6 separate regions of the Homo sapiens genome follow, and all the other regions are linked to region 2. The links come from fine-mapping of genetic effects on plasma protein levels. A gene starts in region 2. Each other region holds a variant in brackets. All regions are shown on one strand. Distances are from middle to middle.

Evidence for each region. PIP is the posterior inclusion probability: the model's chance that the variant is causal. Protein levels are from antibody-based Olink assays in UK Biobank. Linkage for the fine-mapping came from a reference panel and not from the study's own genotypes, which makes the PIPs less certain.
Region 1: its variant is fine-mapped to the plasma level of the IFNLR1 protein (UK Biobank, PIP 0.99).
Region 3: its variant is fine-mapped to the plasma level of the IFNLR1 protein (UK Biobank, PIP above 0.99).
Region 4: its variant is fine-mapped to the plasma level of the IFNLR1 protein (UK Biobank, PIP above 0.99).
Region 5: its variant is fine-mapped to the plasma level of the IFNLR1 protein (UK Biobank, PIP above 0.99).
Region 6: its variant is fine-mapped to the plasma level of the IFNLR1 protein (UK Biobank, PIP above 0.99).

Annotation. Positions count from the first base shown.
Region 1 is chr1:23,764,560-23,769,645 of GRCh38, forward strand. The region is part of intron 3 of ELOA-AS1 (ELOA antisense RNA 1); the gene reads right to left. Among named protein-coding and RNA genes, the nearest start is that of ELOA-AS1, 11 kb to the right of the region's middle. RefSeq lists a silencer at 1,240-1,534. The variant G/C (reference allele first, on the strand shown) is at 2,325.
Region 2 is chr1:24,184,768-24,189,848 of GRCh38, forward strand. It overlaps IFNLR1 (interferon lambda receptor 1), which reads right to left and starts at 2,522. Exons shown (of 7, transcript NM_170743.4): 1 at 2,424-2,522. The coding sequence starts at 2,481. RefSeq lists a silencer at 2,295-2,784.
Region 3 is chr1:24,127,817-24,132,816 of GRCh38, forward strand. It overlaps IL22RA1 (interleukin 22 receptor subunit alpha 1), which reads right to left. Exons shown (of 7, transcript NM_021258.4): 5 at 325-463. Among named protein-coding and RNA genes, the nearest start is that of IL22RA1, 13 kb to the right of the region's middle. The variant T/C (reference allele first, on the strand shown) is at 2,130.
Region 4 is chr1:24,197,640-24,202,725 of GRCh38, forward strand. It overlaps LINC02800 (long intergenic non-protein coding RNA 2800), which reads left to right and starts at 2,601. Exons shown (of 3, transcript NR_027087.2): 1 at 2,601-2,752; 2 at 4,825-4,960. RefSeq lists an enhancer at 1,923-2,032. The variant G/T (reference allele first, on the strand shown) is at 2,006.
Region 5 is chr1:24,093,903-24,098,988 of GRCh38, forward strand. MYOM3 (myomesin 3) reads right to left here. Exons shown (of 37, transcript NM_152372.4): 7 at 4,021-4,109; 8 at 1,540-1,584; 9 at 951-1,088. LOC124903878 (a long non-coding RNA gene) reads left to right here and starts at 2,144. Exons shown (of 3, transcript XR_007065543.1): 1 at 2,144-2,315; 2 at 3,522-3,688; 3 at 3,939-4,072. It overlaps LOC105376864 (a long non-coding RNA gene), which reads left to right and starts at 4,804. Exons shown (of 4, transcript XR_007065542.1): 1 at 4,804-4,890. The variant A/T (reference allele first, on the strand shown) is at 2,759.
Region 6 is chr1:24,152,976-24,158,047 of GRCh38, forward strand. IFNLR1 (interferon lambda receptor 1) reads right to left here. Exons shown (of 7, transcript NM_170743.4): 7 at 1,193-4,916. The coding sequence ends at 4,155. It overlaps LOC124903879 (a long non-coding RNA gene), which reads left to right. Exons shown (of 3, transcript XR_007065544.1): 2 at 2,037-2,217; 3 at 4,280-5,072. Among named protein-coding and RNA genes, the nearest start is that of IL22RA1, 12 kb to the left of the region's middle. RefSeq lists enhancers at 1-519, 520-1,117, 1,118-1,715. The variant G/A (reference allele first, on the strand shown) is at 2,475.

The sequences.
Region 1 (5,086 bases), 420 kb before region 2:
TTTTTGGTATTTTTTTGGGAGATGGAGTTTTGCCGTGTTGCCCAGGCTGGTCTTGAACTCTTGAGCTTAATCACTCTACCTTGGCCTCCAAAGTGCAGGGATTACAGGCATGAGGCACCTCGCCCGGCCCCCTGAACTTCTCTATGATGTCTATTGTCTCAACTCTTTTCAAAGACTAAGGAAAGTTCCAGCCATCAAAATTTTATATCACTGTATCTGTTTCTCAAGCACAGAGTCTTGGGTTGGGGCCTCAGAATATGCATTTAAAAAGATGCAACTCAAGTGTTATGGACTAAATGTTTGTGTCCCCCCAAAATGCCTATGCTGAAATCCTAAGACCCAGTGTGACAGTATTAGATAGGCCTTTGGAGGTAATTAGGTCACGTGGGTAGAGGCTTCATGAATAGGATTCTCCCTCATAAGAGAAATGAGAGTTGCTCTTGCTCCTTGTTCTCCACCATGTGAGGAAATGAGAGGACGGCAGTCTGCAAACCAAGAAGAGGGCCCTCACCAGACACAGAATTGGCCAGCGCCTTGATCTTGGACTTCCAGCCTCTGGAACTGTGAGAAGTAAATGTTTGTTGCCTAAGCCAGTCAGTCTATGGTAAGTTGTTACAGTAGCCTGAAATGACTGAGACACTAAGCGATTTTTTTTTTTTTTTTTTTTTTTTTTTTTTTTTTTTTTTTTTTTTTGAGGTGAAGTCTCACTCTGTCACCCAGGCTGGAATGCAGTAGCTTGATCACTCTCGGCTCACTGCAACCTCTGCCTCCCGGGTTCATGTGATTCTCCTGCTTCAGCCTCCCTAGTAGCTGGGACTACAGGCGTGCACCACCAACTTTTGTATTTTTAGTAGAGATGGGTTTCACCATGTTGGCTAGGCTGGTCTTGAACTCCTGACCTCAGGTGAGATCAGGTGAGATCCACCTGCCTCGACCTCCCAAAGTGCTGGGATTACAGGCATGAGCCATTGTGCCTGGCCTGACACTAAGCATTTTTTTTTTGGGGGGATGGAGTCTTGCTCTGTTCCCCAGACTGGAGTGCAGTGGCGTGATCTCAGCTCACTGCAACCTCCGCCTCCCAGGCTCAAGCGATTCTCCTGCCTCAGTCTCCCAAGTAGCTGGGATTATAGGCATGCATCACTACAACCCGGCTAATTTTTGTATTTTTAGTAGAGACGGGGTTTCACCATGTTGGCCAGGCTAGTCTTGAACTCCTGACCTCAAATGATCCACCCGCCTCTGCCTCCCAAAGTGCTGGGATTACAGTCATGAGCCACCACGCCCGGCCGACACTAAGCAATTCTTAAAATGTACACTGAAGTTTGAGAACTGCTCCAGAGAATTTGCCACAGTGGAATAGCTCTTCACAGCAGGTCCCTAGGTCAGGACTAGGAAGCTTGTTGATTTAGTAGTAAGCAAATACTTGCATTGCTTCCCACTCTGTGTCACTGACTAAGTCAGACATGGCAGGCTGGGGACAGTGGCTCACAGCTGTAATCCCAGCACTTTGGGGGGCCAAGGTGAGAGATTACTTGAGTCCAGGAGGTTGAAACTAGCCTGGGCAACATAGTGAGATCTTGTCTCTAAAAAAATAAAATATTAGGCCAGGCGCGGTGGCTCATGCCTGTAATCCCAGCACTTTGGGAGGCTGAGGCGGGCAGATCACCTGAGGTCAGGAGATCAAGACCAGCCTGACCAACATGGAGAAACCCCATCTCTACTAAAAATACAAAATTAGCCGGGTGTGGTGGCACATGCCTATAATCCCAGCTACTCGGGAGGCTGAAGCAGGAGAATACCTTGAACCTGGGAGGTGGAGGTTGAAGTGAGCCAAGATCATGCCATTCAAAATAAAATAAAAATAAAACAAAATAAAATAAAATATTAGTTGGGCATGGTGGCATGAACCTGTAGTTCTAGCTACTCAGGAGGCTGAGGTGGGAGGATTGCTTGAACTCGGGGAGGTTGAGGCTGCAGTGAGCCAAGATCATCCCACTGCGCACCAGCCCGGGTGAAAGAGCAAGACCCTGTCTCAAAAAAGAAAAAAGAAAAAAAAAAAAAAGGCCAGGCATGGTGGCTCATGCCTGTAATCCCAGCACTTTGGGAGGTCAAGGCAGATGAATCACCTGAGGCCAGGAGTTCGAGACCAGCCTGACCCACATGGAGAAACTCCGTCTTTACTAAAAATACAAAATTAGCTGGGCGTGGTGGTGCATGCCTGTAATCCCAGCTACTTGGGAGGCTGAGGCAGGAGAATCGCTTGAACCCAGGAGGTGGAGGTTGCGGTGAGCCGAAATTGTGCCACTGCACTCCAGTCTGGACAA[G/C]AGCAAAACTCCGTCTCAAAAAAAAAAAAAAAAAAAAAAGAGACATGGCCCTTGCCCTCATGAAGCTTTCATCTAGTAGGGAGACAGTTATCAAATAACTGCACAAATAATTCTTTTTTTTTTTTTTTTTTTTGAGACAAAGTCTTGCTCTATTGGCAGGCTGGAGTGCAGTGGCGCGATCTTGGCTCACTGCAACCTCCGCTTCCCGGATTCAAGCAATTCTCCTGCCTCAGGCTCCCGAGAAGCTGGGACTACGAGTGTGCGCCACCATGCCCAGCTAATTTCTGTATTTTTGGTAGACACGGGGTTTTACCATGTTGGCCAGGATGGTCTCGATCTCTTGACCTCGTGATCTGCCCGCCTCGGCCTCCCAAAGTGCTGGGATTACAGGCGTGAGCCACCGCGCCTGGCTTTTTTTTTTTTTTTTTTTTTTTTTTTTGAGACGGAGTCTCACTCTGTCACCAGGGCTGGAGTGCAGTGGCGCGATCTCCGCTCACTGCAAGCTCCACCTCCCGGTTCACGCCATTCTCCTGCCTCAGCCTCCCGAGTAGTTGGGACTACAGGCTCTCGCCACCACGCTCGGCTAATTTTTTGTATTTTTAGTAGAGACGGAGTTTCACCGTGTTAGCCAGGATGGTCTTGATCTCCTGACCTCGTGATCCACCCACCTCGGCCTCCAAGAGTGCTGGGATTACAGGCGTGAGCCACGGCGCCCGGCCACAAATAATTCTTTAAAGTACAGGTTTCTGGGCCCTACTGAAGAAATATGGTTGAATAGGTCAAAGGTAGGATCTGGAAACAGGTACGCTTTTGTAGGCTTCCCCCAATGAACTCGATGAGCGGCCTGGTTTGGGAATGTCTAGTGTAGTGGAAAAAGCATGCATGACCTTTGGGATGAGACCCAGGTTCAAATCCTGCCTCCACCACTCCCACACCTCTCTGAGCCTCAGTTTCCTCATTGGTAAAATGGGAATTATGACACTCTGCAGGAATTCTTATAAGGATTCAATGACAGAAGGGGAGCCACATTTTAGTGTCCCTCCTTCTTTCCCTCTAAATGTGGAATGAAAGAAAAAGGTTTTGTTTTTTACTGATGGGAATTCAAACTTCAGGGTCACAAGCTAAGAACTATTTTGAGGTCAACAAGTCCTTCCTGATAAATGAAATCTTAGTGCCTGCTTCCTCAGAGTTAGTTTGACTTTTCTGTTTTGGGGCCCCATTCTAATTTTTTCGGGTCCCTTAAACTGCAGCTTCTAACAACCACTAAAAAGGAAGACCACCTAATTTCTTACGGCCACAAACTCAAATACCAGGGGTTTGGTATGTGACAGCAGGCTGTGATGGGAACAGAAAGAAAATGGAGCTATTCACACAGCTCCACTTTATTGCTTCCGGGTTGAAGACAGGGCCCAGTGTTGCCACCTCTTCTGGATTTAAAGAAAATGGCCGGCCAGGTGCGGTGGCTCATGCCTGTAATCCCAGAACTTTGGAGGTGAGGCAGGTGGATCACTTGAGGTCAGGAGTTTGTGACCAGCCTGCCAACATGGTGAAACTCCGTCTCTACCAAAATATACAAAAATTAGCCAGGTGTGGTGGCGTATGCCTGCAGTCCCAGCTACTTGGGAGGCTGAGGTGGGAAAATCTCTTGAACCTGGGAAGCAAAGTTTGCACTGAGTGACAAAGCTCCAGCCTGGGTGACAAAGTGAGACCCTGTCTCAAAAAAAAAAAAAAAAAAAAAAAGGAAAAAGGAATAGGCTCAGCAGTAGTTCTCAACTAGAGGTGACTTTGTTCCCAGTATGACACTTGGCAACATCTGGAGACATTTTGGTTGTCGCTGTTGTTGGGGAGCTATGGGCATCTAGTGGGCAGAGGCCACGGATGCTGCTATCCATGCTACAATGCACAAGACAGCGCCCCTCCCCCAACAAAGAATTATCTGGCCGAAAATGTAAATAGAGCCAAGGTTGAGAAGCCTTGGACATGGTTCTGTTGCAGCAACAACCCTCAAATCTCAGTGGCTTGCAACAACAGAGGTCTCACCGCCTGTCCATTGTGAGTCTGACAGGGATCTGCTTTATGTCATCCTCACTCAGGGGCCCAGGCTAAGGGAGGTGCCATTCCCATGCTTGTAAGATCTTCGAGGCAAGTAGAGAATATTAATATATTATTAACATTAATTATAATAATAAAAAATAATATTAATTACAATATTGATATAACTGTTAAGTTTTGTCTAGAAGTGACATCTATCATTGCCATCATATTGCATTGGCTGCACCTTAATTCATGGGGTCAAGGAAGCACAATCCATCCATGTTCCTGGATGCAGAGAATTGGGAATATTTGCTAACAGCATTAAAGATTCCAAAGGTTGGGTGCACCAAAACCTCAGAGATCACCACTAAAGAACTTATTCATGTAACCAAACACCACCTGTTCCCCCAAAACTTATTGGAAAAAACTAAAAATCCAGAGAAAAATGTATGCTGACCAAAAAAAACAAAAAAACCTCCAAAGGTAATCATGACAGCCTGGGCTCTAGGTAATCCACAAGGCTCAGAGAAGGGCAGCTAAGGGCACAGGCTGTGGAGTCAGACGTCAGACTTGGCTTCAAACCCCACACTTTCTAGCCATGTGGACTTGAGCATGTCACTTAATCTCTCAGTTTCTTTCTCTAAAAATGAGGAAAATAGGCTGGGCGTGGTGGCTCACACCTGTAATCCCAGCACTTTGGGAGGCCCAGGCAGGCGGATCACGAGGTC
Region 2 (5,081 bases):
CAGCATTTTGGGAGGCAGAGGTAGGCAAATCACCTGAGGTCAGGAGTTTGAGACCAGCCTGGCCAACATGGTGAAACCACGTCTCTTCTAAAAATACAAAAATTAGTTGGGCATGGTGGCACACGCCTGTCATCTCAGCTACTTGGGAGGCTGAGACACGAGAATTGCTTGAACCCGATAGGTGGAGGTTGCAGTGAGCCGAGATTGCGCCACTGCACTCCAGCCTGGGTGACAGAGTGAGACTCTGTCTCAAAATAAATAAATAAAATAATAATAATAATAATAGCAGCTAATGTGTATTGTGTTCTGTGAGCCAGGTTCTGTGCTAAACAGTTTACCTGCACTTTCTCTTTTAATCCTCATTACATCCCTAGGAGGTAGGTATTCATTATAATAATTATAATCGTTACAGATGGGAAAACCAAGGCCCTCTCAGCTATTAAGTTGTAGAATCAGATTCAGTCCAGGCCTAGCCAACTCCAAAGTCCGAGCTCTTGACTGTACTTTGTCTTCTAGGTTCTCATGGGGTCTATTGAGCTTTATGATTCCAACTATTCCATCTATTGACCACTACGAGTCAAACAAGATCTGTTGACCACGGTGTGCCAGGGGTTTCAAAGAAGAACACAACTTCATTCCTGCCCTATAGGAGCTCATGGTCCCATGGAGAATTCAGGGTCCTGAAGTGTCCCATGTGCCATGATGGAAATCCATACGGGTTGCAAAATGGCATCAGGGAGGGAGGGTCCAGTTCTGTGGATGGCTGTCCCCAGCCTCGGCTGCCTACCCATCACCTTCTAGACCCAAAAGTGGGTGCCTGCTTCCACCTCATCCTGTGTCCTCTAGCTGGGACTGTATCACCACGAGGCTAGTGCTATTACTACTCCCAGCTTCTGGACTTCCTAACGGGTGACCAGCAGGAGACCAGGCTGTCTGCAAGCCACTTGTAAGGTATCCTATGGGCAGGACAGTCCCCAGATTCGAGCTAGGTCACATGAGAAAAACAGCAGTTAGAGCAACTTTCCTCTATGAAGCCTTCAAAGGATGCCAGGCACTAGTTTGGCTCTTTACATGTAAAACCTCAATCACCCTTGGGACAGACCACCCTATGGGGTAGGTGTCATTCATTCTGCTTCCATGGAAAGGGCGCTAGGCTCAGAGACAGATGCTAACTAACTTGCCTGAGGCTACACAGTCAGTTTGTGTGGGAGCCAGTATTTGAACTTAGATCTGGCTGTACTTACTCCTAAATCATCACACCATAGTTAGTGTTGTGTATATTAAATACTTATCAGGTGAAAGTACAAGAAGGTCTGGGTTTGACAGTGAAAGGGGAACAGAAGACCCCACCCTCCCTCCACACACAGGTACACGGTCCCTCATCAGCCACAGAGAACGCTGCTGTGGGCACTGGGGGCTGGAGCATCCCTGGCTGGCCTAGTGACCCAGTGGATGGACAGCCTGTCCCACGTGCCTACCCTGGAGGCAAAAGCTAGCCAGGCTTGCTTTAGCCCCTCTTCTCTCTTCTGTGTGCCTCACCTCTGCCATCCTTCTTGAGGAATTCCCTGAATTGCTCTGAGCCTCAGTTTTCCCATCGGAAAAGTAAAAATAATATCTACCTCCGAGGATGGCTGGGTCGTGAGGCTTCCAGAATAATGCGGTGCCTGGCACAAAGAAGTTGCTGAATAAATATAGGCTTTTATGATGATTGGATTATGCCCAGGGACCTTTACAGCTCTTTAAACTGTGAGTCCAAGACTAGGAAAATATCCTGGGGGCGATTTCTGGACCTTCTCTTCCCTGCTTCGGTTGGAGTCGTGGGCGGTGAGGTTTGGTGGTTGGGTCCTACGGCGAGGAATTTTGTACCTGACACCTTACTCATCAGTAGAGGTGGGAAAACAACAACAACAACAACAACAACAAAACAACAACAAAACAACAACCACCACCAAAAGAAAGCCGTCTTGTTAGAAAGCAGGGCACAGGCGACCAGAGCTCCGTCCCACCAGAGGCCTGGCAGGAACGGGAAGGGACATCAATCGGTCCCACTTTCCCTGCTGTCCACACTTTAGGGTCAAGTGTGGTTTTCACGCAGGGATCAGTGCTTTCTTTAGGAAACATTAAAAAGCACTTTATTAAAAAATATGCAGTATCAAACTGCCGCTGTCTTTTTTCTCCAGTTCTCCTGAAGCTGGAAGCATTAGGAAACTGGATTCGTTTCCTGCGGGAGAGGAATATCAAAGACCCGGTTCTGTTCAGTCCTGGGAAGAAGCAAACTGGGGGCGCGTAGGCAGGGCCGATTCGCACCCGGCTCGGGTGGCTGCGGACCCCGTGCCTGTCCCAGGAGCTCCGGGTCCGAGGGTAGGCGCGGCCCGGCCCGGGGAGCCCTCTTCCCCCTCCCTCCCGCGGCCCCGCGCCCTTACCTGGAGCGGCCTGCAGCAGGCACAGGAGCAGGGGGCCCCAGCGCTCGGGCCCCGCCATGGCCTTCCTGCCGCGGCGTCCCCGCCCGGGCCCAGGTCCCCGCCTCCCGCCTCCCGCCTCCCGTCTCCTAGCCCACCGCGGGCAGGTGACGCAGTCGGCAGCCAATGGCCCGCAGAGCCGCGGGCCCGTCCCTGCCGCCTAGGATTCACTGAGAAGGTCCCTGGGGACAGCCCCGCCGCGGGGGGAGGGGGGGGGGGGAGCGCGCCGGTCCCCGCGCTCGAAACTCGCCCGTACCTCTGCTTCATCTGCACTTAGTTTTGTTTTACTCAATTCCCGGAAAAAAAAATCAGTAAATCCGTGCACGGGGGAAGGGCAGGGGAGGGGAAGAAACCGGCTGATGATCAATAACCCACGGCCAGTCCAGTGCTCCAGGACGGGCCATTTTGGCAGGATTAGGGAGAGTTCAAGGCCGGTTTGGCTACGCGGCCTCAATGCCATTGGCGGGATCCGAGCGCGTTTCTGAGCCGGATGCTGAGCTCCGCGCCTTACACACGCGATTCCCTTTAATGCCCCCGGGGATCCCGGCGGATCCGTGCTGCCCTTCTCCACGTACTTCTCTCCCGGGGAGCGGCAGGCCCCAGAGCTTCAGGTGCTTGTTCTGGGGAAAGCTGTCTTTCTGACCCCGAAGGCTGTGGTGTTCACCTGGACAGCAGTAGCTTCCCAGTAAGGCACACGCCACGACGCGCAATATTATGCGGCCCTTTAGGAGGACGTTGCCGAATGGTGTGTATCGACACCGAGGTGTTTGCAACACACTGAGAAACAGAAAAGCGAGTGCTAAAACATAGGCCCATTAAAAAAGTGTGTGTGTAGCCGGGCGCGGTGGCTCACGCCTGTAATCCCAGCACTTTGGGAGGGTGAGGCGGGTGGATCGCCTGAGGTCAGGAGTTGGAGACAAGCCTGGCCAACATGGTGAAACCCCGTCTCTACTAAAAATACAGAAAATCAGCCGGGCGTGGTGGCATTCACCTGTAATCCCAGCTATCAGGGAGGCTGAGGCAGGAGAATCGCTTGAACCCAGGAGGCGGAGGTTGCAGTGAGCCGAGATCGCGCCACTGCACTCCAGCCTGGGCGACAGAGTGAAACTCAGTTTCAAAAAAAAAAAAAAAAGTGTGTGTGTGTGTGTGTGTGTGTGTGTGTGAGTCTGTCTGTATGCATAGAAAGATATTTGGAATAATAATTACCAAAATATTAATGGTTGTTGTCTTTGGGTGATGAGGATTTTCTTTTTCAACTTTCTTCTTTTCTGATCATATTTCGTTTCCAATTTTTTGATAATTATTTGAAACTGGGATCAGCTTTGGTCCCATCAGTTTTTGGAAGAGAAAATGATTTTCACAGAGCTTGGTGGGTCCAAAAGTTGCTCTGAGTTTAACCGCGGGGGAAATTTCTTTTGGAAATTTCAGGATGCTTCTGGGACTAGCATCAAGGCTTCTGCTTAATCAGGATTTTTTTTCTTTTTTTTTTTTTAGACAAAAGCTCTGTCGCCCAGGCTGGAATGCAATAGTGTGATCTTGGCTCACTGCAACCCCGCCTCCTGGGTTCAAGCTATTTTCTCACTTCAGCCTCCCAAGTAGTTGGGATTACAGGCACCTGCCATCATGCTCAGCTAATTTTTGTAGAGATGGGGTTTCACCATGTTGGGCAGGCTGGTCTTGAACTCCTGACCTCAGGTGACCTCAGCCTCCCAAAGTGCTGGGATTACAGGCATGAGCCACTGTGCCTGGCCTTAATTAGGATCTCTTAACAAAGCCCTGCTCACAGAGGACGCAATTCCACCTCAAAGGCGCAGGGTGGAGGAGGATGGAAGAGCAGCAGGCACGGTCAGTGTTGGTATCTTGGGATCTCTGAAATGTTGACTGTTGACTTTCTTTTCTCCTTCCTTCCTTCCTTTCTCTCTCTTTCTTTCTTTCTTTCTTTCTTTCTTTCTTTCTTTCTTTCTTTCTTTCCTTCCTTCCTTCCTTCCTTCCTTCCTTCCTTCCTTCTTTTTTCTCTCTCTTTCCTTCTTTCTTGCTTTCTTATTTTCTTGCTTTCTTTTTTTTTGACAAGAGTCTCACTCTGTCACCCAGGCTGGAGTGCAGTAGCGTGATCATGGTTCACTGCAACCTCTACCTACTGGTTCAAGCGATTCTCATGCCGCAGCCTGCCAAGTAGCTGGGACTACAGGCGTAAGCCACCATGCCCAGCTAATTTGTGTATTTTTAGTAAAGACGGGGTTTCGCCATGTTGGCCAGGCTAATCTCGAACTCCTGGCCTCAAGTGATCTGCCCACCTCGGCCTTCCAAAGTGCTGGGATTATAGGCATGAGCCATGCACCCGGCCCTGAAATGTTGACTTTCATTTCCACCCAGCAACTGCAACTCTTTTAGACCCGGAATCCCACTGTGCTTGGAGCGGTTCAACAGCAGGTACAGAAATATCTTCATTTGCCACCTGCTCCACCCATGGGCTCCTGTGCTATGCATCTGAAACTGGCACTTGCTCTTTTTTGACAATTTGTTTGTCACATGTTTGTTCTCTTGTTCCTCTTCCCCCACCTCCCCGCCCACGCATAGCTTCGAGTTAGAAAATTGTGTGTTCAGATGCCTTGATCCTTCAAG
Region 3 (5,000 bases), 57 kb before region 2:
TGCTTCCCCCCTGCAGATTTTCCCTCCAGTATATCTCACCTGGGTTAATATTAAGGTGAGTTTGCTTTGCCAAGGTACACATAAGGCCTGTCAGAGAGGGGAAATCCAGACATAGGCTGGAGGGTGAGAATCAAACATTTGCTTTGATAACTCATCAGCCAACTCTTTTATGGATAAACAAAGATTGACTTCAATAACACACTGATAACCCTTCCATGGTTTTCTAGAGTGTTGCCAAGTCTCACCTTGGTTACAGGGAGGAAAGAGAAGAGTCAAGACTTGAATTCGGGAGCCCCACCTCCCTCTGGTTTCAGCCGAACTCACCTGGCAGTGTCTTCACTCGGCACATGTAGGGGGCACTCTCCTTGGCCCAGGTGGGAACGCAAATCATGATGGTGCCAAGGAACTCTGTGTCAGGGGTCAGGCCGAAGAACTCATATTCTCTCTGCTTCCCTCCAAGGTGCTGAATTGGACAGAGAATGGAATGTGATTCCTGTTACACACCGATCTCCACATAGAGCCCAAGGAAGCTTGCTCGCTCCTCCTGGATTCTGGTTTGATGCTGATGGGTCTGTCTTCAGCCTCTGTTTCCATTCCCCTCCCTTCTGCTTTATCCCCAAATCCAATCAGTCTCCAAGCACGTGTGCCTTTCACTTGCAATAGTGTCTGGCCCATAGGCAGTGGTTATACACACTATATAATGTGGTTATATACATATATATATATATATATAAAATGTGTGGTTATACACACATAATGGCAGCTGTCATTATGACCTCCACCACCCTCCCACGCTCCCACTATCCCTCCTTCTTCCAATTCCTCTTGTCCTTCACCTTTTTGTGGTTAAACATCATAAACTTTTTGAACACCCATTCCTTTCTTTCTTTCCTCATTGCTTCTGCCTTAATTGGGCCTCAAGGCTTCAGCCTGGACTCTAGCAGTAGCCTCTTTCATGGTCGCCCATCTCTGGGTTTGCCCCTGTTCACTTCCATATTCATCCTAGTGTTTATAGGAATCTTTCTAAAAGACAATCTCATTATAATGCTCTTCTATTCAAAAGGCTTTGATGGCCTCACCCATATTTACAGAATAGAGTCCTGGTGCCTGGCTTCCAGTCCAGACTCATTTGTCTCTGCAGCCCACCTGGCTCTGCAGGCTCATCAATGCTGGATACCTGCCACTCGGGTAAACACCTACCTTGCATAAGAAAGCCCTTGTTTCTTTGCATCTGCCAATCCTTCTGCTGGAACTGTGTTTTGATTCTCGTTCTTCTGTGTATCTCTCACCTTTTTGACCCAGAACTCCTCTCCCATGGCTGCCACATGTTATCCTGTCTGGCTCTCCTCCTACCTCTCTGACTGGTCTTTCGCTGGTTTTAGCCCCTCAATGTTGTTCTGCAAGATTTGCTCTTCAACCATTTCCTTCTCTCTCACATACTCTCCAGCCACTTAGTGATCTTATCTGAACCCATGGCTGCTGTGAGCACCGATGTGTGGATAACTCCCAAACTTATCTCAGGAAGAGCTGTAGAGTTTCTGATGGGCCCTGCCAGCTCCCTGCTGAATAGTACCATGTGAGCATCTCTAAGTCAACATGTCCGAACATGCTGCCCTCCTCTCTCTGGGGCTGGCCCCATCCCAGACCCCAAACCCAAATCTGCTTTTGATTCTCTAATTTTGATAATAGCATCACTCTTCTTCTAATCTCCAGGGCCTAAACCTTGAAGCCATTTTGGACAAATCCCCTCTCATATCTTTGGTATCAAATTGCCCTTAAAGGATCCAGAAATCTTCCTTTAAAGGGCCAGAACCTGTGTTCTCGGGAGTTCAAAAACTGAGAATTTTCTTTGGCTCTTTGTATTTCAGCTCTGCCTTCTCTTTTTCAGGCACATGGAGGCCAAGGTTGAGGGTAATTTACTGTTTTCTTTTGTGTGTGTTTATGGGGATGGTGGTGACAGTGAGTGAAGAAGTACATAAATAAATTTTTTAACTTATTGTTTTGTGGAACTCATGTGGTTGGAACTGGACACATTACATATCATGAGACATAACTCCAGGAGAGTTGCCAAGGCCCTGATTCCTCCTTTCCCAAGTTTTTCACGACCTCCATCCTGGTTCAGGCCCTCA[T/C]TTCCAGCCTATACCATTGCAATAATCTTTTGACTTGCCAGCCTGATATCTCTTCCATTTCCATATTTGATCTTTCTTCATTCTAATCCTAGTAATTTATATCTTCTATTGGACCAAACATCCCCAAAATAACAACTATAAATTCTAAGCAAAATGAAAACCAACTACTTAAAAGCATTGGAGAGAAAATAAAAGCAGGCATATATTGGAGAGAGGAGAAATGTCGATGGGTACATTTCCCATTTTTACTGTCTTGTAGCCTGAAGGCAGACCTCAGTCTACACCCTGTGGAATGGCTAAACCTAGACAGAAACCCTTTATTCTCAGTGGCTTGAATACCCAAAAGGCAGGGCTTGGAATAATCACAGCAGCTGGAAAATGAGGGGAGAAAGCACAGACAGGGGAGAGTGTAGAGAAGGAGGCCCAAACTCTGTATATAAACTCTGCTCAAATCCCTGACCGGCCCCTAAAGTAGGCATGAATGGGGTAGACTCCAAGCAGCCCAGGTAAAGTTAACCAACAAAAAAAGAAGAGAGATTTCAGAGTTTGGAGTTCAGCCAAATTAATTGCCTACCAAAACCGGATGAAACCAAACCAACACTCTTTGGAGGAATATAACAGAATCTACAGTAATTTCAACACAATGTCCAGGATACATTTCAAAATTGTTAGACATACAAAGAAAGAATATGCGACCCATATTCAAGAGAAAAGATAATAGTGACTGACCCTGATGACCAAAATGTTGAATTAGCAGACAATGATTTTATTTTATTTGAGACACAGTCTTACTCTGTCACCCAGGTTGGAGTGCAGTGGTGCAATCTCAGCTCACTGCAACCTCCGCCTCCCAGGTTCAAATGATTCTCCTGCCTCAGCCTCCTGAGTAGCTGGGATTACAGGCACCTGCCACCATGCCCAGCTGATTTTTGTATTTTTAGTAGAGATGGGGTTTTACCACACTGGCCAGGATGGTCTTGAACTCCTGACCTCAAGTGATCCACCCACTTTGGCCTCCCAAAGTGCTGGGATTACAGGCGTGGGCCACCTCACCTGGCCAACAATGATTTTAAAGCAGCGGTATAACAATGCTCCAGGAAGTGAAACAAAATAAGCTCATATTGAATGAATGAATAGAAAATCTCAGTAGAATATGGAAACTATAAAATCTAGGAACTTTAGAGTTGAAAAATTCTAGATATTATTATCTGAAATTTAAAAACCCACTGAATTATCTCAAAAACATTTTGGAAATGACAGAAAAAATAGAGAACTTGAAGAAAGATTGATAAGGGAGAATTAGATAGTGGTGATGGTTTCACAACTTTGTGAATAGGCAAGTAACACCTGAATTGTATGCTTTAAAAGAATGAATTTTATGGCATGTGAATTAATGTCAAAAAAAGGTAAAGGCTGTCAGAGCTGTCTGCAAGAGATACATTTTAAATATAATAACAGAGGCAGATTGAAAATGAATGTAAAAACATATATTATGCAAACCATAAGAAGGCTGGAGTGTCTATATTAATATCGATAAAGTAGACTTCAATACAAAGAGTATGACTACAAATAAAAAGGAACAATTCCTATGACAGAAGGTTCAATCTATCAGGAAGATACAACAATCATAAATATATATGTATTTAATAACTGAGTTTCAAAATGCACGAAGCAAAAATGCACAGAATTAAAGGGAAAATAGACAAATCCACAATTATAGTTGGAGAGTTTACTATTTTCAACAATTAAACGACCAATTGACCTCTCACCTAAATCAGGAAAGACATAGAAGATCTGAATAACACAATTAATCACCTTTACCTAATTGATATTTATAGCGCACTCCACCAACCAACTGCAAAATATACATTCTTTTCAGGTGCACAAGGAACGTTCACCAGGACAGGCCATAGGCTGGGCTATAACACAAGCCTCGATAAATTTAAAAGGACTGAAATCATACAGCGTGTGTTCTCTGACCACAAATTGAATTAAATTAGAAATCAACAATAAAATATTTAATAAGACCCTAAATATTTACCAAAAAATAGTTGTGATAAGGACTCTCCCTGCTTAGTAATCTCTAGTGGCTCCCCCAACTACCGAAAGAAACAAAAATTCGTCCCCTCCACCACCCTATCCCTTCTACAGCATAGTCCCATCCAGTCTTCTGAGGTTTATCTCCCGGGGTCCCTCCACGTCAGAGGTTCTCAAGCTTTGCGTTGGGGAAGAAGCGCCTGGGTTGCTCACTAAAATTCAGATCCCAGGGATGCAAGTGCAATAACTTGATGAAGTTGACTGGAAGGGGACCCAAGAATCTGCATTTTAAACAAGTGCTGCAGGAGATTCTGATGCTGTTTGTTTGGGACCATGGTTTTTGTGTGTGTGTTTTTTTTTTTTTTTTGAGATGGAGTCTTGCTCTGTCGCCCAGGCTGGAGTGCAGTGGCGCGATCTTGGCCCACTGCAAGCTCCACCTCCCGGGTTCACGCCATTCTTCTACCTCAGCCTCCTGAGTAGCTGAGACTACAGGCGCCCACTACCATGCCCGGCTAATTTTTTGTATTTTTTAATAGGGACAGGGTTTCACCGTGTTAGCCAGGATGGTCTGCATCTCCTGACCTCGTGATCCGCCCGCCTCGGCCTCCCAAAGTGCTGGGATTACAGGCGTGAGCCACCGTGCCTGGCTGGGACCATGTTTTAAGAAACTGTTTTACATGTCTTTATGCTCTTGTCAAAGTGGGCAGTTCTGTGCTTTTCAAAAATGTCTTAAGTTGGCCGGGTGCGGTGGCTCATGCCTGTCAACCCAGCACTTTGGGAGGCTGAGGCAGGAGGATCTCTTGAGCCCAGGAGTTTGAGACCAGCCTGGGCAAC
Region 4 (5,086 bases), 13 kb after region 2:
TTCACCATGTTGGCCAGGCTGGTCTCAAACTCCTGACCTCAGGTGATCTGCCTGCCTTGGCCTCCCAAAGTGCTGGGATTACAGGCCTGAACCACTGCTCCTGGCGGGGTGTGTGCATTTTAAAATTTAACAGATACTACAGATACTGCAAGTCGCTCTCCATGGTGGCTGAACCAACTTCCTACCGGTAGGATATATGAGACTATCCTTTTCCTAACATCCTAGTCAATCCTAGGTCTCAGCCAGCTTATAATGTTTTGCCAAGAGAGGTTTCTCACTGTTGTGTTCATTTGCGTGTTCATGGGCTTTTTCTAGAAGTTCCAGGTTGCTGGTGTGGGGGAAGAACTCAGGAATTCGGGTCAGGCAACCTGACTATCTGCTGTGTGACCAACACTAGACCCAGCCCTGTCTCCATCTGCTGTGTGACCAATGCTAAACCCAACCCTGTCTCCATCTGCCTAAGAATCTTGGTCAAGAGCTTCCTTTTGGTCCTCTGTTTCTTCATTTTTGAGGTCAAAGTTTCTTCCTCTCTAGGAGTCTGTTCTTCTTCCTCCGGCCCCTGCTGGGACTCTGGAATCCCTGAGTAAAGCAAGGCGTTCAGAAGCTCCTCCACTGTAATGCACACGTGTTCTCACTGGTGGACAAATCTTTAACTCTCCTGTTGCTCACTGAATAGTGCTCCAGAGATGTTCTGACCAGCATACAGCAGATGACAGGGACAGGAAACCAGATGGAAAGGGATTTATTATAATTTTTCCTTCACAAAACTATACTTTAGAAAAGTGAAACATGCTGAATGCCGAAAATTGGGAAAGTATAGAAAATTATAAAGAATAAAAATAAAATATAATCTCACTCTGCAGAGAGACTCATTGCTACCATTTGTGAGTTTAGTACATATACAGTATTTTATATATATGTTTAGTAGCTCACATTATATCATGAGTATGTCATTTAAAATATTTTTTAAAGTTTTAACTAAGAAAATTTGTTTTAGAGATGGGTTCTCGCTCTGTCACCCAGGCTGGAGTGCAGCAGAACAATCATGGCTGCCTGAAGCCTTGAACTGGGCTCAGGCGATCCTCCAGCCTCAGCCACCCAAGTAGCTGGGACTGCAGGCATGCACCTTCACACCCGGCTAAGTATTTTAATTTTTTAAGAGATGGAGTCTTGTGATGTTGTCCAGACTAGTCTCAAACTCCAGGTGTCAAGTGATCCTCTCACCTTGGCCTCCCAAGTTAATTTTTTTTTTTTTTTAGACGTGATCTCACTCTGTCATCTGGGCTGCAGTGCAGTGACACAATCTTGGCTTACCGCAGTCTTGACCTCCGAGGCTCAAGAAACCCTCCCCCCTCAGCCTCCTGAGTAGCTGGGACCACAGGCGTGTACCACGACTGGCCAATTTTTTGTATTTTTTGTAGAGATAGGGTTTCACCATGTTTCCCAGGCTGGTCTCAAACTCCTGAGCTCAAGCGATCCATCCACCTCAGCATTCCAAAATGCTGGGATTGCGGCATGAGCCACCATGTCCAGCTATTTTATTTTATTATTATTATTTTAAATGACTTTTCAAAAAGGCTGTACCAATTTGGGTTCCCACTAGAAGTCGTGGATTGGTGAATTTTTAAAGGAGCAGTGTGGCCCTCATCAACCTGGACGCACACGCTGGTCTCTAAGGCATGGAACAGTTGTGCTGGGAGGGAGCTCCTCTGAGAGGGTGGTCAGAAGAGCCCCCAGGCATCACCTCCACCATGAAAGCTCACCCCTCTCCCCTAAAGCTTAGATAACCAGCTGCATTTCCTAAGAGTGAGCACCAGGGGGCACCACATACCAAAGGAAAGTGGTCCAGACTGCGAGACCGCGGATTAGACCAAAGAGATAACGTTTTTTTTTTCTTAGACTGGGGCCCTCCAAGGCAGAGAGAAGACCAACTCTCCTGGCTTCCTTGACATTCTCCTTACCTGACGTTCTGCAGCCTCTTGGGAGACTCTCGGATGTACCCATA[G/T]GAGGCTGTGGGAGACAGAGGGTCATGTCCAGAAGGGAAATGGCAGTGTATGGCGTCACAGTAAGAGCTGGGGCAACTCCCCCGCTGTGTCTTTGATGTCTTTGCATCACCTTTCCAAGCCTCAGTTTTTCTCATGTGTCAAATGGGAGTGACAATTTCCTGCCTCGCTTTACTCTGTGTGTGTGTGTGTGTGTGTGCGCGCGTGTGTGTGTGTGTAACTTATGCCAAAGTGCTTTGAAAAACCGAGAAGTGGGAGGGGGGAGGGATAGCATTAGGAGATATACCTAATGTTAAATGACGAGTTAATGGGTGCAGCACACCAACATGGCACATGTATACATATGTAACTAACCTGCACGTTGTGCACATGTACCCTAAAACTTGAAGTATAATTAAAAAAAAAAAAAGAAAGAAAAACCGAGAAGGCCTAAGGATGTCTGCTGAGTTGAGACTAAGGTGTAGTGGGTGATATGTTTGGCTGTGTCGCCACCCAAATCTCATCTTGAATTGTAGCTCCCATAATTCCCACGTGTTGTGGGAGGGACCTGGTGGGAGACAGTTGAATCATGGGAGCAGTTTCCCCCATACGGTTCCCATGGTAGTGAATAAGTCTTATAAGATCTGATGATTTTATAAGGGGTTTCCCCTTTTGCTTAGCTCTCATTCATTCCCTCTTGTCTGCTGCTACGTAAGACGTGCCTTTTGCCTTCTGCCATGATTGTGAGGCCTCCCCAGCCACTTGGAACTGTGAGTCTACTAAACCTCTTTTTCTTTGTAAATTACCCAGTCTCTGGTCTTTATTAGCAGCATGAAAACAGACTAATACAGGGGGTAAGGACACGTGGAGCAAGATTGGTTACTACATTAGTCCAGGGAAGACAATGGTGGTGGCAGCTGTGAAGGTGGTGAGACGTGGCTGGATTCTGGATATATTTCAAGGGGAGAACCAGTGAGATGTATTGAAAGATTTGATGTCAGGGGTGAGAGAAAAAGGAGGTCAAGGGTGATACTAAGGCTTTTTGTCTTGAGCCAACAAAGACTAGCGGTGCCTTTTACTTAGTGGGGAAGATGGTGGAGGGATGGTTTGGAGGTGCAAATCAAGAGTTCCATATTTAGACATGCTACATTTGAGATGCCTTTTAGGTCACCGAGTGATTGAGTAAAGACAGAGGTCAGAAAACTGAGCCTTAGGCTGGGCTCGGTGGCTCACGCCTGTAATCCTAACACTTTAGGAGACTGAGGTGGGAGGATCACCCAGGAGTTTGAGACCAGCCTGGGCAACATAGGGAGACCCCATCTCTACAAAAAACAAAACAAGTTAGTGAGGTGTGGAGGCACACATCTGTGGTCCCAGCTACTTGGGAGGTTGAGGTAGGAGGATCACTTGTGCCTGGGAGGTTGAGGCTGCAGTGAGCTGTGATCACACTACTGCAGTCCACCCTGGGCAACAGGGCAAGACCCAGTCTCAAAAAAAAGATTTAGCCTTGATTCCTTTTCTCAGGGTCCTATAAGGATCACAGTATACAATAGATTGGACTAGATCAGAGATGAAAACATAACTCACACGCATGCGGCCACATCCCTTCCAGTGCCGCTGGCAGATATCACAAATTCATCACAGCACTCAGGAATCCTCTCAACCCAGAGCTCTAGGCAGCCTCTACCAACCAAGTGGAGATGATACAAAAACGAAAACTCTCCATCATCCTGAACTGGTTGAGATACCCAAGAATGCGGTTAAAACCATGGGCTTGGGCCGGGCGCCGTGGCTCACGCCTGTAATCCCAGCATTTTGGGAGGCTGAGGCAGGCAGATCACAAGGTCAGAAGATTAAGACCATCCTGGCTAACATGGTGAAACCCTGTCTCTACTAAAAATACAAAAAATTAGCCGGGCGTGGTGGCGGGTGCCTGTAGTCCCAGCTACTTGGGAGGCTGAGGCAGGAGAATGGCGTGAACCCTGGAGGTGGAGCTTGCAGTGAGCCGAGATCGCGCCACTGCACTCCAGCCTGGGCGACAGAGTGAGACTCCGTCTCAAAAAACAACAACAACAACAAAAAACCATGGGCTTTTGGGCTAGAGAGGCCTGGGCTGCACAGCTAATCTTGCTACCAGCTAACTTGAAACCTCAGAAAAAAACTGTTTCTCAGTTTCTTCATCTGAAAAATTGGATTAGTAATAGTTCCTATTTCATAGGGCTGTTGTGAACATTGAGATCATCCAATAAAATTATTTAGCACAGTGCCTGGGACACAGTCAACCATCAATAAAAGTGGCAGCAGCAGCAGTAATAGTTGTTGGATGGTGTTACTCCAGCTTGAACATTCCAGATACATCCGTCTTACATTCTGTTTCTGACATTGGACAAATAGTGTAATGTTGGGGCTGTCCAGCAGGAGGCACTGCTGACATGTACTTCTCTATTGCCCACAGAGGTCCAGGAAGTGGGAGGCAGTTTTCCCTGGAGCAGTGTTCTCTGATGATTGCCCTGGCAGAGGCCTAGACTTTTCTTCCTGGTACAATAAACCAAGCTCTTGGCTCCTCCCAGACAGCAGTGTCTCAGCTTTCTTCCTGGGACTGGTCCTCTCTTCTCAGATCCAGTTCCTGGCCTCCTCCTGCTTATAGCCTCCAGCCAAGCTGCTGAATCTGGCAACCCAGGCCCTGGCCAACCTTTCCTTCTTGTCCAGGCCCCTAGCGGCCGCCAACTTCCCCAAAGCCAGCAGGCACGTGCAGGACATGCCAGCTTGGAATAGGTTTCCTGCGCCCTCTCTCTTCCCCCTCAACTCTGTAAAATCCCTTTTTTTGATTCCTCCTCTTCAGAGATGGAGCCGGGCAGGACTAACCCTGCTGTGCAGATGGAATAAAAGGCAGGGACCTGTTCCACGATGCTCCCAAGCTCAGATCACAGCGAGCTAAAGGGAACCTGGGAGGTGGGTCTCCTAAGCCTCAGGCACAGGTGAGTCACTCGCCACTCAGACCACACTCATCTTTCAGACTCAGGTGTTCACTGGGGGCTCAGTGGGCATCTTCTGTCTTTCGGCCCTGTGCTGGGCACAGGGCTTGACTAAGATGGAGGGAGACC
Region 5 (5,086 bases), 91 kb before region 2:
CATGGATTGGGTAGGAGGTCCAGCCGTCGTCCTCCTCCCTCACTGGGCCACGTCTTCCTGCCTTGGCTCTGACCAGGCTTCTCAAGGCCTCGCCTGAGACATCCCCAGAGGCCTCCCAGCCCACGGGTCAGCAACTGTATCTGCACCACCACCCTGACTCTGCAAAGTCCGATGCAACTGTTGCAGCCTGCCCTGAGCACTTGTGGTGCCCTCCTGCCTCCCGATCTTGGGGCTCTGTTCCCATTGCTTTGAGTGCCCTCACTCACTTTTTTTTTTTTTTTTTTTTGAGATGGAGTCTTGCTCTTGTCCCCCAGGCTGGAGTGCAATGGTGCCATCTCGGCTCACTGCGACCTCTGCCTCCTGGGTTCAAGCGATTCTCCTGCCTCAGCCTCCCGAGTAGCTAGATTACAGGCACCCACCAACATGCCTGGCTAATTTTTGGTATTTTTAGTAAAGATGGGGTTTTGCCATGTTGGCTAGACCTGAACTCTTGACCTCAGGTGATCCACCCACCTCAGCCTCCCAGAGTGCTAGGATTACAGGTGTGAGCCACCACGCCTGGCCTCCCTCCCTCACTCTTAGGGAGGTAATGATGCATGCAAATGGCTGAGCAGGTGCCTGGTCAGTGCCAGCGGCTACAATTGTGCTGATGGCTTCCTCCCTCCTCCCAGGTGGACACAGCCCCCTGGGCTCATGCACATCTGCCCCTACCATTTACCCCAGCCCTAACCCAGGGCCTGGCACCCCACAGATGCTTGGTGGCCATTTATGGGGTGGCATGATCTGACCACACCTGGCTGCACTCCCGCTCTCCTCTGCCTCTTCAGCACTTTAGCACAGTTGGTACTGGTTGGGGAGAGTCTCTGTCCGCTAGGGGTCCTCTCTGGCTCTGAGTTGAGCTTTGGAGGGGCCAGCTCTGGAGGCTGGGGGCCAGGACTGGGGGTCCTTACCATCTCGGAACCACTGGATGCTCTCAGCATCTAACACATCTTCCGAAAACAAGCATGACAGGGAGAAGGGTTCCTTCTCACGAGCAAAGACTGGCTTCAGCACCGAGGTGAATTCCACGCTGGGGCCAAACGTCGATCCTGGCGTGGGAATGAAATTTGGGGCAGAAGTTTTTGAGGCAGCCAGCCTGGCCTGGGACTTAGGAGTGAGGAAATTTCTGGGGCATCCCTTCTCTTCTGGGTCTTGACTAGGAGAAGGGGACCTGGCCTTGGGGTAGGAGGGGAAGAGACTTATCTAGGTAGTGGTCAGAGCAGCCAAAGAGCAAACATCCCAAGGCCAAGTCCGTTGGTTTTTCTGGCTTTGCCTTTCAAACCCAGTTTAGGTCAGAGAACAGCTCAGCAGCTGGGGACAGCTCTGGGGTACCCTGCGGCCTTTAGAAGTCAGGTGCAGGTATTACCAGCTCATAGACAAACCCCGGTGGACGTCCTTTTATGGGCAGGGGATGGCTATATTCTAAACAGGGACTGTGGGGGTCGGGGAGCAAAGCCTGAACAAAGAATCCCAGGTCCCGTTCTCCCCCAGCCGACTTACTTTTGAAGATCTCTGAATCGAAGCCAGCATCCTTCCCCAGGTAAGCTGAAAAACCAAAGGCAAACAGAGTTGGAGAAGGTTCAGAGCCCACATTCCTATGCTATTTTGGGGACATGGGCTTTGGATATGAGTTTGAGTCCTGGTCTGTTGGTGGCTTCCCCTTGTGGCTTTGGGAAAGTTCTTTTACCTCTCTGTGCCTCAGTTTCTTCAGCAGTAAAATGGGACAGTAATTCCTACCTGGAGCAAGGAACGAGCGGGTTCACATGAATCAAGCCACCAGCCATAGCCTGACACATGGCAGGTTCTCAATACATGCTGGTTTCCTTTCCCTACCCAAACTTGCCCCCAGGATTATGCACTGTCTTCACAGCGGTCAAGCCCGCTCAGAGGCGCGGGGATTTCTGGTGGGATCAGGGAGAGTGGTGGGGGAGGGGCAGCACTGAGAGGCATCCAGGGGCTGAAGGGTGAAATCCAAGGTAATGTTGCCACAGACCACCAGAGAATAGTAACAGCAGCTCTCACTCACACAGTGCTCGCCCCATGCTCTGAGGATTGAACGAGCCAATTAAACACATAAACACATTGACTCATTCTATCTTCACAACAGCCCTGTCAGTTGGTACTATTATTATCCTCTCAAACAGAAGAGAAAACTGAGGCACAGCCGTCCAGACAACACCCCAGCAGCCTGAAGCTATGACATGACACTGGTCCCTGGAAAGGCCCTTCCTGAGCAAGGTCCAGAGAAGGGCAGGAGGCTGCCCGAGATCACACAGGTCAGTGGAAGAGTCAGGATTGGAACTCAGGGCTCCTGTCCCCCAGGCCACTAAAATCACCCAAGTGGCTACGGAGATGAAAGCAGAGAAGAGGGTGGTAGTGGCGGTGAGTGGAGTAGGAGAAGCAGAGGGTTGGCTGGAGTCTGGGGCCAAGAGCAAGCCTGGTGGACCCTGGAGTTGCCAGCCTTGATGGAGAGAGGGACAGGGATCTGGAAGGAGTGGTGGGAAGGACGGGTGGGCAGAGGGAGGCAGGGCCCCAGTCCCTGACCTTGGGCTTGACTCTGGGCATGGACTGTGGGGACAGCTCAAATTTCTGCACAAGAGCTTGGCCTGGCAGCAGGATCTGCCTCCTAAGAGCTATTTAGGGAACAGGACAGTGGGTGGAGAGGGCTGTGCAGGACAGTTTAACAAGGTCTGATGAGAGGCAGGGAGGGTGGCCTGGG[A/T]TCCACCTGTCTACTGCCCAAGACAGCTGCCTCAGGAGTGTGTGTATGAGTGCGCGTGTGTGTATGAGTGCACGTGTGTGTGTGTGTGTATGTGTGCACACGTGGGCTTCTCTCTCCCGGGGGTCCTGGAACTCAGGGCACGGCATTCTTCTGGGCCCAAAGGTGTGACCCCCTTGGGCAGTGCCCTGCCCTGGTCATGGGAATGGGTACCACATGCCAAGGCTTATACGTATCATCTCATTTAATCAACTCGGGCATCTGAGAGAGGTGGTAGGATTGTAGGATTCTCCCTTTCACAGATGAGGAAATAGAGGCTCAGGGAAGTGAGGTGGCTTCCCAGATTTACACAGCCAGTTGGCAGCAGAGCCAGGATGTGAACTCAGGTCTGGCTGACTCCTGAGTGTCTACCTGCTTTATGCTGTGATTTCAGATGCCCATGGGGTGACCTCCAGGAGGGGCCCAAGCCCAGCTGGAAAATGTGCAAAAGGACCCACATGGGGCAGTGGGGGTCAGGTGGGGAGTTGCTGGGGTTTGGCTTTTGTCCCTGAGGACCCCTCAGCAGGGTTGGTGGGGCCAGACCACCCTCCCAGAGGCCCTGAGATGGATCCCAACCTAAGCGCAATCCGGTGGGCCAAGCATGCTCTTTGGCATGGCGGGCAGGTGGGTTCGCCTTGAATAACTGTGTAGGTTGTGCTCTGTGCAAAGTTATCCCCTGAGAGAGCAACTTGGGGGCTAAAATTCAGTCTGTTTTCCATTTGCCAAGCCATGTGCCCTGGAGTGGGAGCTGCACCTGCCTGCAGAAAAGGGGCCCCTTTCGCTAATTCATCCATTCAGTTCACACAAAGGTGCCCACCATGCCAGTGATGACTCTACAGAGAGAGCTGAGTTCAAGTCCCAGCCCTGCCACCGGCTGGCTCAGGATGGAATCAGGTACTATCAAGGGTGTCTGGCACACAGTGAAGACTCAGGAGAGGTCAGTTCCCTTCCCATCTCCCAGCTGCTCTTGACACCAACCCACAGGGACAGGTGATCCTGCCTCACTCACCTTCCACCATCAGCCCAGGCTGATGGAGGAGACTATCGCTTGCTGTGAAGGCCCCCAGGGAAGCGGGAGTCTCCAGGGCTGCCCTGGTCACCCAATGCCAGGCTGAACAGCCTTGTGCCTATGGCCCTTCCTCAGGTCTCACGCAGACCCATGTCCTTGTCTGCCCAGCTTGGGTTTGCTGTGGCCCGGAGTGCCTGTTGGGGTTGGGAGGACTTACTGCGGACGAGGACTTTGGCGAAGGAGGAGGCCTGGCCGTGGGCGTTCTTCACTCGCACAGTGTAAGTTGCTGAGTCCTCAATGGCGCATCTGAAAAGGAGAGAGGGAGAAGTTCCTCCCAAGACTGCTGGGCTCCATGGGAAACACAAGTCCCCTGTGTGGGTGGGAAAGGCTGGAACTAAGGAAAGCCTCACGGTGCCAGGAAGAGACTTTGGTCATTATCTCTGAAAAGCTGTGTGTTTTCTGGTTGGCCACTGCACCTTTCCATGCTTCGGTGTCCTCTGAAAAACTGGGGACACGACACCACCTAAACCGTCTCAGGAGAAAGTGCTTTAAAAATATGACATGCCACATTGCAGTTATTGCTGACTGTGGAGGATCAGAGAGGTTAAGTGACTTTCCCAGAGTCACAGAGCAAATGGAACTCAACTCAGCTTCAAACAAGGATCCTGGAGCGGGAGCCTCCTCCTTTCTCAGAGAGCAGCAGACAAACTTGGTCAAGGCAGGCTGCAATCTGGATAGAACTGAGCCAGACACCCAGGTGTTCCCAGTCTTAGGTGTGGGTCTCACCACCAACCAGGCCAACCCTGTCATGTTCCCAGTGGAAGCCTGGGCCAGCTCCATCCCAGGGGCACCCTGGTGACAGAGAGGAGGTGGTCGGATGTGGCACCTCTGGCCCCATTAGCAAGCAGAGGCCCCTTGGTGCCTCCTTTTTGCCCCTGGTCACTCAGCACAGGAACCCCTCTTGCTTCCAGGGCCAGTCCTGCCTGCCCCGGAGGTCCCCCTGGGCCTGCGCACCTTCCTTGACTGTGGAGTCCATGGGGCACCTCCCTTATATGGTCAGATATTTATGTCTCCCCACTTCTGAAGGGTAAGATGAGTGTTCTGCTTATCTTTGTGTCTCTGAGGCCTGGGTTGGTTGAGGTGGAGGGTTTGGTGTTTGGGAAACAACCCAGATAGAGAGAAATGGCTCACACCAGGCCCTGTCGCATAGTAGCTGTACAAGAGCCTTAACTTTCTGAGCCTGTTTCATCACCTGCGACATGGGGTGCTTCCCTCAAGCATGG
Region 6 (5,072 bases), 32 kb before region 2:
GGGAGACCCTTGCTAATGGAGAGCTGCTGGAATGAGTTTGGCAATGCAAAGCTAGGCGCACAGGTGCTGTTCCATATCCTTCCATGGACCATAGTTGCAGCTGGGTGAGCTGTCAGCTCCAGCCTCACTACAACAAGGGATATTGGCTGGGGACCCTGCCCTCAGCCCCATGGCACTCCCCTTTCTTGTGCACTCAGCTTGGTGGATTCCAACTGCAAGTACCTGCAACTCTGCCTCAGGGAACGGCCTCCACACTGGACTGATGGGAGGGAGTAGCTAGACTCCCTGGCTCCTGCCCCTGGCAGTGGGACCAAATCTGAATTGCATCCTACATTGACTTCCAGAGCTCTCCAGGGGCACTGAGGTCCAGCTGCCCACAGCAGGGACCTGTTGATGACACACTTTGCCTGGCTGCCCTCCTCCCCTACCCTCCTCCCCATCTTGCCTCCACACTCCCCTCCTCCCCTACCCTCCGCCCCATCTTGCCTCCACACTCCCCTCCTGGCGTTACCTGGATCACTGCACTGCTTTCTACCTTTCTACCTTTTCTCTGGGTTTGCTTCTGGGGACCCGACTCAAGACCCTTGTAGTCTTTTTTTTTTTTTTTTCTGAGACTGAGTCTGGCTCTGTTGCCCAGGGTGGAGTGCAGTGGTGTGATCTTGGCTCACTGCAAGCTCCACCTCCCGGGTTCATGCCATTCTCCTGCTTCAGCCTCCCAAGTAGCTGGGACTACAGTCGCCCGCCACCACCCTCGGCTAATTTTTTGTATTTTTAGTAGAGACAGGGTTTCACCATGTTAGCCAGGACGGTCTCGATCTCCTGACCTCGTGATCTGCCCGCCTCGGCCTCCCAAAGTGCTGGGATTACAGGTATCAGCCACCCTGCCTGGCTGACCCTTGTAGCCTTAACAGCTAGGTTTCCCAGAGGAGAGGTGAGGAGCCTTTGAAAAATAAGAGCATAGGCCAGAAACGGTCACTCACACCTATAATCCCAACCAACACTTTGGGAGGCCGAGGCGGGAAGGATTGCTTGAGCCCAGGAGTTTGAGACCAGCCTGGGCAACATAGGAGATTCCATCTCTACAAAAACAAAAAAATTAACCAGGCCTGGTGGGGCATGCGTGCATGACAGAGTGAGATCCTGTCTCAAAAAAAAAAAGATAAGAGCATACGCTTTTCCATTCAATTGTACCTTTTTTCTTTAAAAATAGAGCTCTTTATTTAAACAGTTTAGGGTAATACCAACAAGCAGTAGGATATCGTTTAAATATGACATAAACATAGAAAAAATAGAAATAAATACAAATACATAAGAACAACATATACCGTTAGTAGTCTAAAGGGATACATGTTGCTTTCACCTAAGGCACTAACACTTTTCACGGGATATGCTTCCAGCGCAGGCCCAGCCCACACCGCGCAGTTCCCACCTGCTGTGCACGTGAAAGGGCTTTGTAAACAGTTAAGTGCTGACCACACAAGGCAAATTATTATACTGATTATCATGCCCTTTCCAAATGCTTCTCCTGGCTTTTTGTGAATGACTTAATGACGATAAAGGAGATGGAGTTTAGAGTTACTGGAAAACTTAAGCTATGTCAGAAATTAAACTCTGGAAAAAATTCTTTAAAAAAATAGTAAGGTTTGGCTGGGCGCGGTGGCTCACGCCTGTAATCCCAGCACTTTGGGAGGCCGAGGCGGGCGGATCACCTGAGGTCAGGAGTTCGAGACCAGCCTGGCCAACATGGTGAAACCCCGTCTCTACTAAAAATACAAAAAAATTAGCCAGGTGTGGTGGCGGGTGCCTGTAATCCCAGCTACTTGGGAGGCTGAGGCAGGAGAATCACTTGAACCCGGGAGGTGGAGGTTGCAGTGAGCCGAGATTGTACCACTGCACTCCAGCCTAGGCAAAAAGAACAAAACTCCGACTCAAAAAAACAAAACAAAACAAAAATGGTAAGGTTTAAGAATAGAAACGGAGTGGTTATTTCATACAAGTCTAAGATGATGCTGATGATAGCTTTTACTTTTTTGAAGTTACCTCCACGAAGCAGCTCGGCTGGTGCCAGAGAGAACATCGGTACAGGTCTGGGAATTTCCCTGGGAGCTGGCCCCAAGCCACAGCCCTCCCCAGCTCCGTAGTTTGTTTGTTCTTCCTCTCCTGGGCTCAATCATCTGGACAAGCCTCACTGCAGGGAAAACCCCTGGGGAGACACAGGTGTGTGTCGTATGTGTGTATGCATGTGTGTGTGTGTGCCCCAGCAGCGGTGAAGGCCTCCTGACCCTTAGAAATCCTGGCTGTGACCTTCATATTTTACTGACATGGACAAGGGGTCAGAGGTTGGCCCGGCTGTGCAGAGATCGAAGCTCTTACCCTTGGGGATGTGCACAAGTCATCAGAGCAGCACTGCTGGGCGACCTTGGACAAGTGCCTTTGCCACCCTTGACCTCAGCTCCTTTGCAACAAAAGGAGTG[G/A]TTTGCTAACTTTTTCTTGAGTAGTGGATCCCTCTAAACAAAACCTCACGTGGAAAGCCACAGTGTGTGAATCAGGGCACAGTGAGGCTGCTCTGGTGAAAGTGGGAGGCTCCTATAGCCCCATGGCGCCCCCTGCAACTGCAGCCCAAGGCCTCTGGGGGACATGGTTTGAGAATCCCTGGATGAGATGCCCTAAGAAGCTTTTCCAGTTCTGCCATTTAATGCTGTACCCTTGTGGTGGCTTTAAAGCAACACAGCTCTGTGGGTTCAATGGCTTTGAAGATCCCTTCTTCACAAATCCAGAAATGTTAGTCCTGGCAGGTTGAATGGCCACAGAGCCAAGGTTGTTCAGATACTCCACCACAAAACACTTCGGTCCTACGGGTGAAAACTCAGCTACGCTCATCTATATTCAGGTGGGTGTAGGTTAACTGAGGATGCATCAGCACCCCCAGGTAAGGATAGTCACCTGAATCTAGAAGGCATTGGTTTCTCATAACTGGAAGGGAGAATGGGACTTCTAAGGACCACAACGGTCAACCAAGAGTCTAACGTGCCATCCAAACTGGGATTACAGGCCCAGAAGTCCGATTCCTGCCATGTTACTGTCCTACTCCAACAAACTGGGTCCCTAGAAGGTGGAGCAGTTGGTTCCTCCCCTGGGAAGCAGGGTTCCCATTGCTAGGTGAAGGCGGAGAGACCAGGGTCCCCTTGGGTGGGGCTCTGGCTTCTGAGAGCTCACTCTCCTGACTGGGAGGCAGTGAGGGTAGAAGGAAGGAGGTAGACTGGGGATGAGACAAGCTGAATGTTAAGTGCTCTCAGTCACTCTGGGTTTAGGGGCCACAGGTGGGAGATGCCCAGGGGTCTCCTGGAGCCTGGATAGATGGAGAATTCTACCGGCCACCACGTAGAGAGCACCCAGGACACAGCAGGCTCCGTGCTACACACATCTGAGATCCCCTAGAACCCTCACCACACCCAGGCGTAGCTGCAGATGAGGAAGCCGAGGCAGAGAAGGAAGATGTCTTCCCCAAGATCATACAACCAGTGAACAGCAGAGCTGGGATTTGAACCCCGGTCTGTCTGACACTAAAACCGTACAGTGCCATGACTCCAAAGACCAGGATTTGAGGACAGCCACCCTTCCCTTCCCATCCAAAACCCTCAGCCAACTGGATTTTTATCTGGGCCTAACTAGGGGACCCATGAATCAGGAGGCTGAGCCCTGGGATGGGGGAGTTCAGTGGCTGCTGGGAAAGGCATGAGGTATAGCAGGTGTGCCTCCAGTGGTCTCAAGTTCCAGAGGGCCCCTTGGTGGTGTCCGCCCTTGATGTCCGCAGTGACCTGACCTCACCTGTTTCATGTTGTCCGGGGATAATTTTTCCCCCTGGCCTGTCACCCTAGGGACAATGGGGGTGATGACACCCCACCAACCTCTGACCTCAGCCCACCCTGTGTCCACCCCTCTTATAGCTCAGCCTAAAGAGGGCGGGTCACAGGAGGGAGGGGCATCTTGTTGCTCAGCCCGACAGGCAAACAGCCGCTAGGTGGACTTCCCGGAAGTGCAATGCCCCTCCGCCGCCCAGGGGAGGTACGGAGGCTCTTGAGTTTCTTGGGAAGCCCAGTAGTCCTTGCAAAGGCAGCAGCAGCATCAGATTCGGTGGGATGTCGGGGGACAGCTCACCTGGCCATGTAATGCCCCAATGTCCGGCCCCTGTCCTCGGTCCTCTGGGTGCTCTCAGCCCCCCAGCTGCCCGCATCGCTGTCCTCAATTTCTGATTCCCTCGCCTCCTCTTCCTCCTCAGGGCTGCTTTCCCAGCAGAAGGTCAGTGTCTGAAGAGAAACTGGGGGTCCCCCAGGGACCAGATTCGGCTCCGGTGGTAAGGTGCCCCAGGTGGCCCAGGAGGAGAGGTTATCTTCTGGGAGCTCTTCCAGGAAACCCGAGTCCTTGGAGAATTCAGGTGGTGGGAGAGATTCTTGGTGCCCATCCCCACCCGGCCCTTGGCCTGGCCCCTTCTCAGCCAAATAGCCAGAGGACCCAGCCCTGTCCCAGGAGGAGTCCACAGTGCTGGCCCAGCTTCTGTCTGAAGAATCCCAAGCAGAGGAGCCTTCGCTTGGGACCAGAGGAGCCCTGGGCCTCCCTGAGTCCACCCCACCAGCCTCCGAGTGCCCTGGAGCCTGGTGCTCTTGCCCCAGGAAAGAAGGTGGTTCAATGTAGGGCTGGAAGCTGACGCCATCTTCTGTGTCCTCCTCATCCTCCTCCTCTTCGTCCTCTGCAAGGTCCTTCTTCCATCTTGTCTGTTGGGTGGCTGGGGCCCTGACTCGAGGCGTCGGCCTGACCCCTCTGGTCAGTTCCTTTTGGGGACAGAGGAACAAGTCATTCACGGACTCTGGTCTGCTGGGCTGAAAGGTTGCCACAGGGTGTGTGTGTCCAGAAAAGTCCTGATTTGGGTAGGGGAGAGAAAAGCAGAAAATTTAGGCTTTCCTGAAGCATAATTATCATCATCTGAATTCCCCTAGAAACAGACCTCAGACAAGGCTTCAAGTGTAAGCAGTTTCTTTGGGAGATGATCCCAGAACACACCAGATGGGACTGGG